Linked DNA regions of Homo sapiens: region 2 is linked to region 1. A link means that fine-mapping ties the variant in region 1 to the expression of a gene that starts in the linked region. Tissue or cell type: whole blood. Region 1 holds a variant in brackets; the other region holds the start of a gene. All regions are shown on one strand. Distances are between the middles of the regions.

What was found. PIP is the estimated chance that this variant, and not a neighbour inherited with it, causes the effect.
Region 2: it holds the start of RFX2, and the variant in region 1 is fine-mapped to the expression of RFX2 in whole blood (INTERVAL, PIP 0.94).

What each region holds. Positions count from the first base shown.
Region 1 is chr19:6,078,081-6,086,185 of GRCh38, forward strand. All of the region lies in intron 1 of RFX2 (regulatory factor X2), which reads right to left. Among named protein-coding and RNA genes, the nearest start is that of RFX2-AS1, 20 kb to the left of the region's middle. The variant C/T (reference allele first, on the strand shown) is at 3,735.
Region 2 is chr19:6,106,135-6,114,239 of GRCh38, forward strand. It overlaps RFX2 (regulatory factor X2), which reads right to left and starts at 4,366. Exons shown (of 18, transcript NM_000635.4): 1 at 4,259-4,366. RefSeq lists an enhancer at 2,880-3,380 and a silencer at 4,228-4,687.

The DNA of each region.
Region 1 (8,105 bases):
CAAAAGGCCACATAGTGTGTGATTCTGTTTATATGAAAGGTTCAAAACAGGCAAATCCACAGAGACAGAAAGTGGATTCACAGTTGCCCGGGGCTGGGAGGAGGAAGGGCAAGTGGCTGTTCATGGCAGGTTCAGGGTTTCTTCTTCTTTTCGGAGTGATGAAAATGTTCTGTGAAGATAGTATACTAAGACCCACTGAACCATACACTTCAAATGGGTGAGCTTTACGGTATGTAAAACAGATCTCAGCACAGCTGTAAAAAAAAAAAAAAAAAAGGTATATTGACGACCTGTCCCCAGTGGCATTAGTTTAAGTCATAAAAATTTAGAAACAAATGTTCATCAACAGGAAAATCATTAAGTACCTTATGGTGCATCCTAGCTCTAAAACTATGCTGCCATTAAAAAGAAGAGGTACCGTCTCCAAGAAAGAAAGCCAACATCTGCAGTGCCTGGCACACAGTAGGCTCTCAAATATTTGCAGAATAAATTTATGTTGAAAAAACCCCAGCTATACATACTATAAAATAGGTAAAGGGGCCTTAAAAAGATCTAGAAGGACACAAGTTATATGACTAACAGTGCTTACCTCATATGAGGTGGGATAGACAGAAAGACGAAAAGAGAAATTTTCATTTCTGAATCTCCTGCTGTAGATGGTGGTCCTTCCCAGGAGAATGTTACTTGTATTACTTGCATATCATTTTATTTTTTGAGATGGAATCTTGCTCTGTCTCCCAGGCTGGGGTGCAGTGCACAATCTCAGCTCACTGCAACCTCCACCTCCCGGGTTCAAACTATTCTAGTGCCTCAGCCTCCCAAGTAGCTGGGATTACAGGCACATGCCACCATGCCCAGCTAATTTTTGTATTTTTAGTAGAGACGGGGTTTCACCATGTTGGCCAGGCTGGTCTCGAACTCCTGACCTCAAGAGAGCCACCTGCCTCGGCCTCCCAAAGTGCTGGAATTATAGGCGTGAGCCACGGCGCCCGGCCATTACTTGCATATCATTTTAAAAGTTGTAATTCATTGGTAAACATTCTAAGACATGCAGGTTCCTGTAAATTACCAAACTGTAATCCTGTAAATTACCAAACAGAATGGCTGTTTGTGCAGGGAGTATCACTGCGATTTAGTGTACTTGGTCTAGAGTATGCTGTCGCTCTTACAACCAGAGGTTTTCATGTTAATTCAACATCCATCATGAAGAGAAAATATACCAGACAAACAAACTGTGGTAGGATCACACAAGGACTGTGCTCCAGCAATAAAAGGAACAAACGACTGACACACGCAATGACAGAATGAATCCCAGAGGCATTTATGCCAAGTGAATGTAGCCAGTCTCAAAAGCTGCACAATGTATGTTTCCATTTATACGACATTCTGGAAAAGGCAGAGCTATAGAAAGGGACAGCAGATGGTGGCCAGAGGCTAAGAATGGGGCCAGGGTCTGACTACAGAGAGAGGTTGGACTTGCTCTCCATCCTGTTTGAGATGGAGGTTATAAGAATCTGTGCAAGTGGGCTGGGTGTGGTGGCTCACGCCTGTAATCCTAGCACTTTGGAAGGCTGAGGTGGGTGGATCACGAGGTCAGGAGATCGAGACCATCCTGGCCAACATGGTGAAACTCCGTCTCTACTAAAAATACAAAAATTAGCTGGGCATGGTGGCTCGTGCCTGTAGTCCCAGCTACTTGGGAGGCCGATGCAGGAAAATCACTTGAACCAGGGAGCCGGAGGTTGCAGTGAGCTGAGATTGCACCATTGCACTCCAGCCTGGCAACAAAGCAAGACTCTGTCTCAAAAAAAAAAAAAAAAAAGTATGCAAGTGTGAAAAACCATAGAACAGCAAACCTAAAAAGGCAAACACGACTGTATGTAGATTTAAAATATAAATTAAAAAAAAAAAAAGAAAAACCAGGTGCATCTACTGAGTGCCCAGCCCCATTCTAGGCTCTGAGGATTCTGTTTTTTTAGGGATGGGTCTTGCTCTGTTGCCTAGGCTGGAGAGTGCAGTGGCAAGATCACAACTCACTGTAGCCTCTAACTCCAGGGCTAAAGCATTCCTCCTGCCTCAGCCTCCTGTGAGTAGCTGGGACCACAGGCACATGCCTGGTTAATGTGTGTGTGTGTGTGTGTGTGTGTGTGTGTGTGTGTATGTGAGAGAGAGACAGAGAGAGAGAGAGAGAGAAGGTGAGGTCTTGCTTTGTTGCCCAGGCTGGTTTCGAACTTTCAGCTTCAAGCAATCCTCCCACTTTGGCCTCCCAAAATGCTGGGATTAAAACGTGAGCCACGACACCCAGCCTGAGGATTCTAAGGTGAGCAGGTCAGATGAAAGTGCTGCTCTCAGGGTGCCAGTATCCTTGTCAGGCAAGAATACACAAGGTTCCAGATACACAAGGTTGTTCAGTAGAGATCCGGGCTGTGGTGCAAGGTGATTGCAGAGGGATAGAGCCAGGGGTGGTGGTGGAGAGGGCTCCCCTCTTGATAGCCAGTTATGGGTGGCACTAAGGATGGCACTGAGCTGGGACCTGACAGCTGCAAAGAAGGGGCCAACCTTGGGAGGATGTGGGAGAGAGCAGCCTGGGCAAGAGGAATAGCTGTGCAAAGGTCTTGCAGCAGCAGAGGCCCTGGACAAGGTCAGATGTCTGGAGTTTTAAAATTCCAATTGCTGTCGGGGCTCAGTGGCTTATGCTTGTAATCCCAGCATTTTGGGAGGCTGAGGTGGGTGGATCATGAAGTCAGGAGTTTGAGACCAGCCTGGCCAACCTGGTGAAACCCCATCTCTACTAAAAATACAAAAATTAGCTGGGTGTGGTGATGCACGCCTGTAGTCCCAGTTACTTGGGAGGCTGAGGCAGGAGAATCACTTGAACCTGGGAGGTGAAGGTTGCAGTGAGTCAAAATCATGCCATTGCATACCAGCCTGGGCAACAGAACAAGACTCCATCTCAAAAAAAAAAAAAAAAAAAATCCAATTGCTAAGGGAAGCCCCAGGAGGCTCAACCCACAGGCACAATATAATCTGACTTACATCTTTTAAAAGAGCACTCTTCTTAGATTATAGACAGAAAGAGTGAATGCAGGAAAACCAAGACAAAGACATTCACTACTTTAAAAAAGTTCATAATAAGTCTGCTTCCCGGCCGGGTATGGTGGCTCACCCCTGTAATCCTAGCACTTTGGGAGGCCAAGGTGAGAGGATTGATTGAGGCCAACCAGGCCGAAAAGGAAGACCCTGTCTCTATTTTAAACAAATAAAAAGAATAATTAATTATGCTTCTAAGACCTGTCTGTGGAACCGGGGAAGGAATCATATCATTTTATAAACAAACCAAGTAACACTAAGCCCATTGCATGAAGGATTAAATAATTAAGCATTTAGTTAACATGAAAGTAAATGATGGCTTCTATACATTTTTAATGCAGGTAATTATACTCTCAGTAAATCATCACAGCACACAAACATTAGCATGCTTATTAATTCAGTGTTAATTGCTATTGGCTTACATGTACCATTATCCAAAAATTAAATAATTTGAGTGTACACTCACTTTTTTAAACAGGTACATATAAAGGTAGATGGAGGGCTGGGCGCGGCGGCTCATGCCTGGAATGCCAGCACTTTCAGAGGTCGAGGAGGGTGGATCACCTGAGGTCGGGAGTTGAAGACCAGCCTGGTCAACATGGTGAAACACCGTCTCTACTAAAAATACAAAAATTGGCCGGGCG[C/T]GTTGGCTCACGCTTGTAATCCCAGCACTCTGGGAGGCCGAGGCGGGCAGATCATGAGGTCAGGAGATCAAGACCATCCTGGTTAACACAGTGAAACCCCATCTCTACTAAAAAATACAAAAAATTAGCTGGGTGTACTGGTGGGCACCTGTAGTCCCAGCTACTCTGGAGGCTGAGGCAGGAGAATGGCGTGAACCTGGAGGCGGAGCTTGCAGTGAGCTGAGATCATGCCACTGCACTCCAGCACTCTAGCCTAGGCGACAGAGTGAGACTCCGTCTCAAAAACAAAACAAAATAAAACAAAAACAAAAACAAAAATTATCTGGGTGTGGTGGTGCACACCTGTAATCCCAGCTACTAGGGAGGCTACTAGGGAGGCTGAGGCAGGAGAATCATTTGAACCAAGGAGGCAGAGGTTGCAGTGAGCTGAGATCGTTCCATTGCATTCCAGCCTGGGCAACAGAGTAAGACCCTGTCTCAAAAAAAAAAAAAAAAAAAATGGTAGACAGGGGAAATGGACCAGATGTTGAATCTAGTTTGGTTATAGTCATTGCTGGGGATTAATATAGTAAGAGGAGGGTCCTTCTCTCCTGAATTGATGTCTATCAGGGGTTGGAAAGTTTTCTTTTTTTCTTTGAGACAGAGCCTTTCTCTGTCACACAGGCTGGAGTGCAGTGGCGCGATCACAGCTCACTTCATCCTCTAACTCCTGGGCTCAAGCCATCCTCCCACCACAGCCTCCCGTGTAGCTAGGACCACAGGCGTGCACCACCACTCTCAGCTAGTTTTTGTATTTTTTGTAGAGATGAGGTTTTGCCATGTTGCCCAGACTGGTCTTGAACTCCAGGGCTCATGGGATCCGCCCACTTTGGCCTCCCAAAGTGTTGGGATTACAGGTGTTAGCCACTGGAAAACTTTCTATAAGGGCCAGAAAATACACATTTTTGGCTTTGCAGGTCTCTGTTGAGACTACTCAACTCTGCCTCTGGACAGTAGGAGGAGTGAGTGTGGCCGCTGCACTCAGCGCTTTTCAGAGCCATGCTAGAGCCTGGGGCAAAGAGGAAAAAGAAGCAGCAGTGCTGATCCTGTCTTTATGTAAAATTTCAACATTTTGCTCATCATGGAATTTTTTTCCCATTATTTTTTTGAGACAGGGTCTCATTCTGTTGCCCAGGCTGCAGTGGCACAAACACGGCTCGCTGCAGCCTCAACCTCCCTGGGCTCAGGGAGTACGGGCACGTGCCACTACCCCCAGCTAATTTTTGTATTGTTTGTAGAGACGGGGTTTCACCCTGTTGTCCAGGCTGGTCTTGAACTCCTGGCCTCAAGTGATCCACCCGCCTTGGCTTCCTAGAGTGCTAGAATTACAGGCATGAGCCACTGTGCCCGGCCTTCATCATGAAATTTTTTGGCATTTATTTTGATTTTTTAAAATACTGCATTAAAACATTGTGTATCTTGATGACTGTGGATTTTTGTAGGCACTGCCTTAAATTTTGCATCCCAGGCGAGGGCCTCACTGCCTCATGCTAGTTCTGACCCTGGTGCTGGTGCTGTTCCAATAAATCTTTATTTATGGACACTGAAATTTAATTTCATATCATTTTCATGTGTCACAAAATATTTTGTCTTGTTTCCAATCATTTAAAAACGCAAAAAATATTCTCAACTCGTGGAAACTAAAAACAAAAATAAAAACCCACAGTAGTGTGCTAGATGTAGTCTGCTGACCCGTTTTTTTTTTTTTTAATTTTTATTCATTTATTTATTTATTCTGAGGCCGGGTCTTGCTCTGTCATCCAGGCTGGAGTGCAGTGGTGCAAACATGGCTCACTGCAGCCTCCACTTCCAGAGCTCAAGTGATCCTCCTGCTCAGCTTCCCCAGAAGCTGAGACCACAGGTATGTGCCACCATGCCCGGGTAATTTTTTAATTTTTTGTACAGATGGGGTCTCACCATCTTGCCCAGGCTGTGACCCCTATCTTGGATGGCCTTTGGGGGAACATGTCTTACTCATAATTATAGGCAGCGGAAAATGCCTGCTAGCGAGTAGGCACTCAAACGTGTCTGAATAATTTAGTCCCATTTTCTCCATTCTTAAATTACTGTTTAGGTTGCTTTACATTCTCTTCCCAGCCCCAGATCTCCAAATACAGGAGATGAGCACACGTGTCCAGGGCACCCCAGACCTCTTGGGCAGGGAGAATTCTCGGCAGAGAAGACCGGATATGGGAGTGTGGTGTGGGAATCGTCTGTGAGTGCTAAAGAACCGGTCCTCCACCTGCCCCAAGCTTTCCATTAGGCTCAAAAGCAGAGTTAGCCCAGTTAAGCGCATGGAAACTAAATGAGTTCGCTGTGCATTGTTCAGCTATACATGACCACAGGCAAGATAAATATTTAGGGTCTTTATTAAAGCTGTGATCCTCTGCTTTAGCAGGACAGCGTAGGGACTTACTAGAGGCAAACCATAAAAAGCATATGCCTCCTAGTAAAGTAATGCTGGGAAATATGACGAGTCAATTACTCTTTATCATTAATTGTGGTAAAATGTGCATAATGTACAATTTACCATTTTAACCATGTTTAATATACAGTTCAGTAGCATTAAGCACACTCACACTGTTGTGCAACCATCACCTCCATCCATCTCCAGAACATTCTCATCTTCCCAAATTGAAACTTTGTCCCCATGAAACACTCACTCCCTACCCCCTCCCCAGCCCCTGGCACCCACCATTCTACTTTCTGTCGCTATGGATCTGATGACTCTAGGGACCTCCTAGGGGTGGAATCACACTGGATTTGTCCTTTTTTTTCTTTCTTTCTTTCTTTTTTTTGAGACAGAATCTCGCTCTTGTTGCCCAGGCAGGAGTGCAGTGGTGCGATCTTGGCTCTCTGCAACCTCTGCCTCCTGGGTTCAAGTGATTCTCCTGCTGCAGCCTCCCAAGTAGCTGGGATTACAGGTGCCTGCCACCACGCCCGGCTAATTTTATATTTTTAGTAGAGGCTGGGTTTCACCATGTTGGCCAGGCTGGTCTCAAACTCCTGACCTCAGGTGATCCACCACCCACCTTGGCCTCCCAGAGTGCTGGGATTAGAGGTGTGAGCCACTGCGCCCGGCTGGATTTGTCCTTTTGTGTCTGATTTCTTTCACTGAGCATGATGTCCTTAAGCATAATGCATAATGTCCATGTTGCAGCCTGTGTCAGAATTTCCTTCCTTTTTCAAGGCTGAATAGTATTCCATTGTATAGATGGATCACATTTTATTTATCCATTCATTTGTTGGTGGACACTTGAGTTGCTGCCACATTTTAGCTATTGTAAATCATGCTGCTATGAACATGAGTGTACAAATCCCTGTCTGAGTGTACAAATACTGTTTTCCAAAGCAGCTACACTATTTTGCACACCTACCAACAGTTCACATGGGTTCAGTTCCAATTTTTCCATATTCTTATCAACATTTTTCTGTCTTTCTTCTTTTGGGTAACAGTCATCGTAATGGGTGTGAAGTGGTATCTTATTAGGGTTTTGATTTGCATTTCTGCAATGATAACTGGTATGAAGCACCTTTCCAACTGCTTATTGGCCATCTGAATATCTTCTTTGAAGAAAGAGAAATATCTACTCAAGTCCTCTGCCCATTAAAAAATTTTTTTGCTGAGTTACAGAAATTCTTTATCTATTTTGAATATTAACCTCTTATTAGAAATGATTTGGAAACATTTTCTTCCATTCCTTGGGTTGTCTTTTTACTCTGTTGCTACTGTTCTTTGATGCACAAAAGTTTTGAACGCTGATGGCCTAATCCTTCTGTTTTTCCTTTTGTCGTGAGTGCTTTTGATGTCCTATCCAAGAAATCATTGCCAGATCCAGTGTCATAAAGATGTCTCCCTATGTTTTCTGCTAAGAATTTTACAGTTTTAGCTCTTATGTTTAGGTCTTTGATCCATTTTGAGTTAATTTTTGTGTATGTTATAAAATAAAAGTCCTGGCTGGGCACAGTGGCTCACGCCTGTAATCCCAGCACTTTGGGAGGGTGAGGTGGGAGGATTGCCTGAGGCCAGGAGTTCAAGACCAGCCTGGGCAACATAGTGAGACCTCGTCTCTATAAAAAATTTAAAAATTAGCCTGGCATGGTGGCATATGCCTGTGGTCCCAGCTAGTTGGGAGGCAGAAGCAGGAGGATCTCTTGAGCCCAGGAGGCCGAGGCTGCAGTGAGCCATGATTGTACCACTGCACTCCAGCCTGGGTGATAGAACAAGATCCTGTCTCAAAAAAAAAAAAAAAAAAAAAAAGGCAGGGGAGATCCAATTTCATTCTTTTGAATGTGGAAACCCAGTTTTCCCAGCATCATTTATTGGAAAGA
Region 2 (8,105 bases), 28 kb after region 1:
TGGGAGAATCCTTTTGCTGATCTTAGAGTTTCCAAGAAGCAAGTAGGTGGTTTTCAGTTTTTTCTCTAATTCCCAGTGTATATTCCATCGGCCTGCCCATCCATCCATCCATCCATCCATCCATCCATCCATCCAACAAAATAAGACCTTTCACTACACCAGGCATATGTCTACATGAGAGAACATGAGAACATGACCAGCAGAGGAGCTAATTGCCATTTAAATTCTAGAGACGGAGTCAAAACATCTTTTTAAAAAATACATAAGCCCACAACCCCTTACAACAATACTGAAATCCAGGAAACTCTGAAAACTGGCAATTTTTTTGTAAATTTGGCATGGACTCACTTGGTGACAAAAGCTGGCCTGAATTGACATGAAGTTACTTATGGTCCTTCTCTTCCCCACTTCGGGTGAATATTCATATAGTTCAGTTCAGAAATACGGCTGTGTTTAGTGGGAATGCCCTGGACCCATAGTTTCAGAGACAGGCCCACAGACTCGCATTCTCCTCCCCTGCAGTTTAGTGAGTGTCCTGACAAGCAAGATGAGAACTTCCCTTGGTTTTTCAAAAGTTTCCTATTTTACAAGTAAGTGGGTACCTATGGGGGTATACTGTTTAAATGTTTGTAAATATTTAAATATATTTGTTTTATATTTAACATATATTTATATTTAAATTTTATTATATTTAAATATATAAGTATATATTATATATACATGTTTTAATATTTCAATATATATTTTAAAAATATTTAAATATTTAATAAATAGATGTCAACTTTAGAAACAAATATATATTATAAGATGTGGTTCCTTCTGGCCCCAGCATTTTATGAGCAAAACAATCACTAGCTACTATAAAAATCCACAGGTGCCGGCCGGGCGCGGTGGCTCACGCCTATAATCCCAGCACTTTGGGAGGCCAAGGTGGGCGGATCACATGGTCAGGAGATCGAGACCATCCTGGCTAACACAGTGAAACCCCGTCTCTACTAAAAAATACGAAAAATTAGCCGGGCGTGGTGGCAGGCGCCTGTAGTCCCAGCTATTCGGGAGGCTGAGGCAGGAGAATGGTGTAAACCTCGGGGGTGGAGCTTGCAGTGAGCCGAGATGGTGCCACTGCACTCCAGCCTGGGAGACAGAGCAAGACTCTGTCTCAAACAAACAAACAAACAAACAAAAATCCACAGGTGCAGGGGCCGGGTTTGGTGGCTTACGCCTGTAATCCCAGCACTTTGGGAGGCCAAGGCGGTTGGATCATTTGAGGTCAAGAGTTTGAGACTAGCCTGGCCAACATAGTGAAACCCCATCCCTACTAAAAATACAAAAATTAGCCGGGTGTGGGGGTGCATGCCTGTAATCCCAGCTATTCAGGAGGCTGAGACAGGTGAATCCCTTGAGCCTGGGAGGTGCATGTTAAGGTGAGCTGAGATCTTGCCACTGCACTCCAGTCTGGGTGACAGAGTGAGACCCTGTCTCAAAAAAAAAAAAAAAAAAAAAAAAAAAATCCACAGGTGCATTTAAAATTTTGACTCGATTATAATATTAAAGTTAAGCCAATTTAATATTTTTATTAATTATAATGCTAATGTAAAACTAAACAATTAGATCTAAGGAATAAGACCCAGATAAACAATTCCCCAGCACCTGCATTTCTGGTGGACAGAACCATCCTTAGCAGTACTTCAATGATAAACAATGTTAAAAGATGAGTATTTACATTTAAATATACATCACATACACATTATATTATATTGTTGTATTTAAATATACATCACACATACATTAAGGTAATGCGTGCCCTTCACGCAGAAAGCAAAGATCAAGTGATTTCAAAGAACTTGTCCTGTTATTGAGGTAATAACTGTCTCTCTCTTCTCAGATTCAGTGGTTTATAAGAAAGAACTTAAAAAACTAAAATATTTCAGTATTGCTTTTCCTGCAGGAGCAAACTATTTCAGAACTCATTCCCAACCCAAGTCCGTTGAACTGTCACAGAATCACAGAACAGTGATCTTTCCCATCATACATTATAAGTTGCCTTCCGTACCACGCCTGTTGATGAAGAAGCCCTAGTAATTCAAGAACTTAAATTCTTTTCCTAGGGAGGTTACCATAAACTCTTACTTCTCTGGTCAGAGTAGGTGAGTTGTCGTTTCTAAGGTTATTTTAGAGTCAGTTCAAGTCTTTAAACTAGAGCAGGAGAAAGCACAGATGCCCCCCTCCTCCTTATCCAGAAGGACGGGAGGTAAGGATCTTTCCATAAGCAAACAATGTTTCAGGGCACGATGTAAAAAGATAAAATACATGTCAACAATATGTACAGGCAAAAATTTTTTTAAAAAGTCTTTGTTGTTTTGTGTCATTATTATTATTACTGTTACTTTGTTGGGGAACTCTTAGTTGAAACAGAGAATGAAGCTTGTACAAGGTTTGATACAGAGATGAAGCTGACTGAGAGGGAAAAGAACTCATCGAAGCCTGCGCTGGTCATTTATGATACAAAGCAGGAAAATAATTGCAGGGAGGCACAATGCTAACAACACCCCAAAGTAGGAATGAAGCCTGGGGGGGCGGGGGTAAGGCAGCCAGCCCTGGGTCCCGAGCTCCATCTTGCCCTCTCCCCTCCCCATTCTTGCCGCACAACCAGGAGGTTAAAATAGGAAGATGAACCGCGCCGGCAGCCGCCAGAATGGCCCGGGCGCTTGGGGCCCTCGGGGGCCCTTGAAATAGCCACTAGGATCGGGAAATCCAACTTTCCCAGCGGTGCAGCGAGGAAAACCAAAAGGAACGGAGCCGGAGGCTGGTGGCGAGGGAGCGCGGAGGCTTCTCGGAGGGAGGAAAAAGAAAGAAATGAGCATTTGGGGTGTGAGTGAGTGTGTGTGTGTGAGTGTGTGTGTGCGCCCGCGAGCGCGCTGGTGGGCGGTGGGGGCAGGGGGTGGAGTTTAAATCCACAAACACACACACGCACTCGCACTACCTCGGAGAAAATGCCTGGAGCAGTTTAGGTTCTTTAACAAAATAAATAAATTGAAAAAAAAAAAAAGTTTCACTCGCGTTGGTGAAACTTTTCTCCCTTCCAGATCAGTCCTAAGAGGAGAGCTGCGGACGTGCGGAGGGGCATCTTGGGGGCACGTGGAAAGACTGGCGGACGCACGAACCCCTATACTCAGGAATATGGGGTCACAGGGAGAAGGGGAGGGGGTGTCCGAGGCGACCTGAACGCGAGGATTTGGGGCAAAAAGGTGAGAAACAGTTCCCGGGGAAGCTCGCTCGGGGAGTTTGGGATGAAAAGGTGAGAAGGGCAAGAGGGGTTCTCCCCAGGGCAGACGCACCAGCTTTTAGTTAAGGAATGAGAAAAAGGTTCCAGGGGTGCCCCCAAATTCAGTATGTCTGGGAGTCCATTAAAAAGGGGGTCCCCGGGACAAGTCAGATCTAGGAATTTGGGGTAAAAATGAGAAGGGAGTCTTCGAGGTCCCCCCGATGCAAGAAGTTTGCGACTAAGAGTGACAGAAGGGCTCTGGGGTCACCCCAATTTCGGAGGTTTGGGGAGTAAAGTAAGAAGAGGGCCCCAGGTGGCCCCAATTCAGGGAGTTTGAGGGTATGAGTAAAAGAGGGGTCCCCGGGTGTCCCCATCTCAGAGATCTGGGGAGTAAAAGTGAGGAGAGGGTCCCCAAGCGCCCCCAATTCAGAGAATTCGAGGGTTTGAGTAAAAGAAGGGTCCCTGGGTGCCCCCAACTCAGAGATCTGGGGAGTAAACGTGAGAAGAGGGTCCCCTGGCGCCCCCAATTCAGAAAATTCGAGGGTATGAGTAAAAGAGGGGTCCTTGGGTGCCCCCAACTCAGAGATCTAGGGGGTTAAGGTGAGAAGAGGGTCCCCAAGCGCCCCCAATTCAGGGAGTTTGAGGAGTTTGAGAGACGTTCCCGGGGCGCCCCCAACTCAGCGAGTTTGAAGGTAAGCGTGAGAAAGGGGTCCCCGGACGCCCCAACCTCAGGAAGTTTTGTAAAAAGTGAGGCGACGGCACCGCACCTCCCCCGCGTTCAGTCAATAAGGAAAGTGGGGACGTCGCCAGGGTCCCCCCAAACTCCGCCGCGCGCGCGGACGGGGTGGCGGAGGCGGGTCCCGCGGGCGCACCACCCGGACGTTTGGGGTGAGCGGCGGGGACGTGCTGCCCGCCCCCCGGCCCCCGAACGGGGTCCCCGCCGCCCCCCACACTCCCCGGCCGGGCTGGGCCCGGGGCGGTCGCATCGGTCACCTGGAGTTCGGGCCGGGAGTTCGGGCAGCGGCTCCCGCGGCGGCGGCAGCGGCTGCTGCGTGTTGGTCCCCGTTGGTAAGTAACAGTCTCCACGGCTACAGTCTCTATGGCGGCGGCGGTGGCGGCGGCGGCCGCTCCTCCTCCGGCTCCCGCCGCCAGCCAGCCTCGCGCAGCCCGCCCGCCCGACGGGGCGGGGCGTTGTTACCGGCAACGGTTACCAGGCTCCGCGCCCCACCTTCCTAACGGCCCGCCCACGCTCGCCTCCAACGGGCCCCCAAGAGGGCGGGGCGCGAGACCCTACGGCGTTCCATTGGCTGTCTGCAGAGTCTGTCGGAAGGAGGAGGCGTTCCCCCTTGAAAAAGAGTGCGAGACTCGGCCAATGGCCGCGAAGAGGGGCGGGTCTTGGCGGGAGGCGCGCGCGGCTCAGAGGGTTGGCGAACCGGTCGCGCGCGCGGCGCCGTGGGTTGGTGGCGCGTTTTGGGAAAGTCCAGTTTTAGGGGACCCAAGGGACTCCGTTTACCCCACAGGAGGAGTGTGGGACATGTGGGAACAGTCTGATCAGGGGTCAGCAAACTCTCGCTCGCCGCCTGTTTTTCACGGACCCCCAGCTGAAAATTTAAATATATATATATTTTTTACATGGTTAAAAGAAACTATCGGCCGGGCGCGGTGGCTCACGCCTGTAATCCCAGCACTTTGGGAGGCTAAGGCGGGTGGATCACGGAGTCAGGAGATCGAGACCATCCTGACTAACACGGTGAAACCCCGTCTCTACTAAAAATACAAAAAATTAGCCGGGCGTGGTGGCAGGCGCCTGTAGTCCCAGCTACTTGGGAGGCTGAGGCAGGAGAATGGTGCGAACCTGGGAGGCGGAGCTTGCAGTGAGCCGAGATCGCACCACTGCACTCCAGCCTGGGCGACAGAGCGAGACTCCGTCTCAAAAAAAAAAAAAAGAAAGAAAGAAAAAAAAAGAAACTATCAAAAGGAGCTTTTGTGGGGTGTGAACCTGATAGGAGACTCTCTTTTATTGTATTGGGCCCAGTATTTTGAACTAGTTTAAAGATTGGCAAACTGCGGCCTGCGGGTCAAATTCTGCCTGCTTGGGTTTGTAAATAAAGCTTTATTGGAACATAGCCACGCCCATTTCCTTGAACAGCTTGGAAGGCTGCTTTGACACTACAGGGGCGGAGTGGAGTAGTTGCGCAAAGACGGCATGTCCCACGCGAAGCCTAAGATATTTACTATACGGTCCTTTACAGAAAATGTTTGCCAAACTCACCAGCCCTCCTCTCAAGCTGGTAGATTCAGCTACGAGTAGGACAGAAACAGACAGATCCTCATAGAACTTTTATTCTAGTGAGGGAACATTGACAGCAAACAGAATAAAGAGGTAAACATATAGTTATTCGAGACAAGGGGCTGGAAGAATAGGAGAAAACAACTTGTACTGAGAAAAGGCAGGAGATTAGGCTTCAGCCCCACTCATTCATTCAACAAGAAATCATATTAGTGAGCACTGATTAAATTGCTATGTGCCTGAAAGTGATCTAAGCATTTTTTAAATATGCAAACTCATTAAATCTTACAATCGCATCTTTAGAAAGATGCTAGGCATTATCCCCGTTTTTATTTGTTTTGTTTTTTCTTTTTTTTTTTTTGAGACAGAGTCTCTCTCTGTCACCCAGACTGGAGTGCAGTGGTGCGATCTGGCTCGCTCACTGCAACCTCTGTCTCCCGGGTTCAAGTGATTCTCCTGCCTCAGCCTCTCAAGTAGCTGGGACTACAGGCGCCCGCCACCACGCTCAGCTAATTTTTGTATTTTTAGTAGAGACGGGGTTTCACCATGTTGGCCAGGCTGGCCTGGAACTCCTGACCTCAAGTGATCCGCCCGCCTTGGACTCTCAAAGTGCTAGGATTACAGGCATGAGCCACCATGCCCGGCCTTTCCCCATTTTTCAGATCAGGAAGCTGAGGCCCAGAAAGAATGAGTGAATTTGCCCAGTGTCAAACAGCTTGTGAGGGATCGGAACCCTAGTAGTCTAGTGCCAAAGTCCATGCTCTTGATCACTAGATGGGTGGTTTTCAAACATTTTTGACCACAGCATACAGCAGGAAATACATTTTACCTAGGGGCTCAGTCCACACAAACATATCTATAACTAAAACAAATGATACTGTAACTAAAGTACCGTGAAATGATACTTTAACGCACTCTGATATTTCCTGTTCTGTTTCATTTTAATTAAAATGTTGACGGTGATTTGCTAAATTGATTTCATCATCTTCTAATTTTTTTTTTTTTCTTGAGACAGAGTCTCTGTCGCCCAGGCTGGAGTGCAGTGGCATGATCTCGGCTCACTGCAACCTCCGCCTCCCGAGTTCAAGTGATTCTCCTGTTTCAGTCTCCCGAGTAGCTGGCGTTACAGGCACGCGCCACCACGCCTGGCTAATTTTTGTATTTTTAGTAGAGACGGGGTTTCACCGTGTTGGCCAGGCTGGTCTCAAACTCCTGATCTCAAGTGATCCACCCGCCTCAGCCTCCCAAAGTCCTGGGATTACAGGCAGGAGCCACTGCGCCTGGCCATGTGACAGATTCTTAAGCTCAAGTGGTCTACAGTAATCAGTCCCTTTCATTCAATTATTAATTTAGTCAAAAATATTTATTGAGGTCCAAGTGCAGTGACTCAGCAGGAGGATCGTCTGAGGCCAGGGGTTCAAGACCAGCCTGGGCAACATAGTGAGACCTTATCTCTATAAAAATAAAATAAATTAGCCAGGCGCAGTGGTGCACACCTATAGTCCCAGCTGCTCAGGAGGCTGAGGTGGGAGGATCGCTTGAGCCCAGGAGTTCTAGGCTGTGGTGAGCTATGACTGTGCCTCTGAACTCCAGCTTGGTAGACAGAGCAAGAACCTGTCTCTAATATATATATATATACATTTATATATATACACACACATATATACACACACATATATGTGTGTATATATATAGTATATGATGATAGATAGATAGGTAGATAGATAGATAGATAGATAGATAGATAGATAGCGCCTACTATTTGCTAGGTGCTAGGGACACAGGTGTAAATAAAATAGATAAAATTCCCATGGCCATAGGAAAAGTGATACAGTAGTGGCTTGGTGGGAGAAGTGGGTGGGTGGGGCTTACCTTAGATAGAGCAGCCAGAGATGATCTCCCTGGGATATCCAACAATCCTGCTTGGCCCAAGACTAAGGGGTTTCCCAGGATATGGGAATTTCAGTGCTAAAACCGGGAAATCCCCAAAGCGGGAAGAGTTGGTCACCCTGGGTCTCTCTAAGGAGCTGACATTTGAGGCAACGTTGGAGTAACGAGGAACAAAGGAAAATAGTTTGGAATTCGAAATCCCTGGGGTGAAAGCTGATGTGGAAGAAACAGAAAGCAGGTCCTTGGGCACAGCTGGAGCCAATGAAAGGGGAAGAGCAGTGAGTGGGTGGGGTGAGTGAGTCAGGGGATGATATGATGGCCATCATTTTATTGGAGGCCGTAGGGAAGAAGTCACGATCAGACTGGGAAACCAATGGAGGGTGTCTTTTGTTGTTGTTGTTGTTGTTTGTTTTTGAGCTGGAGTCTTGCTGTATCGCCCAGGCCCACGCTGGAGTGCAGTGGTGCGATCTCAAGTTGTAGCCTCGGGGAGTAAGGTGACCGCCTGTCCTGGAACTGCTGGTCAACCCGTTTAGCTAAGCTAGACCTCTTCCCGCTCCCAGCCCTGGCCAGAGGCGGAAACTGTGGCCCCAGTTATCTCAAAAGACAAGCACAGAGTAGCAAAAGACAAGCCAACAGGTGGCAAATTCTTAGAGTCCTGCT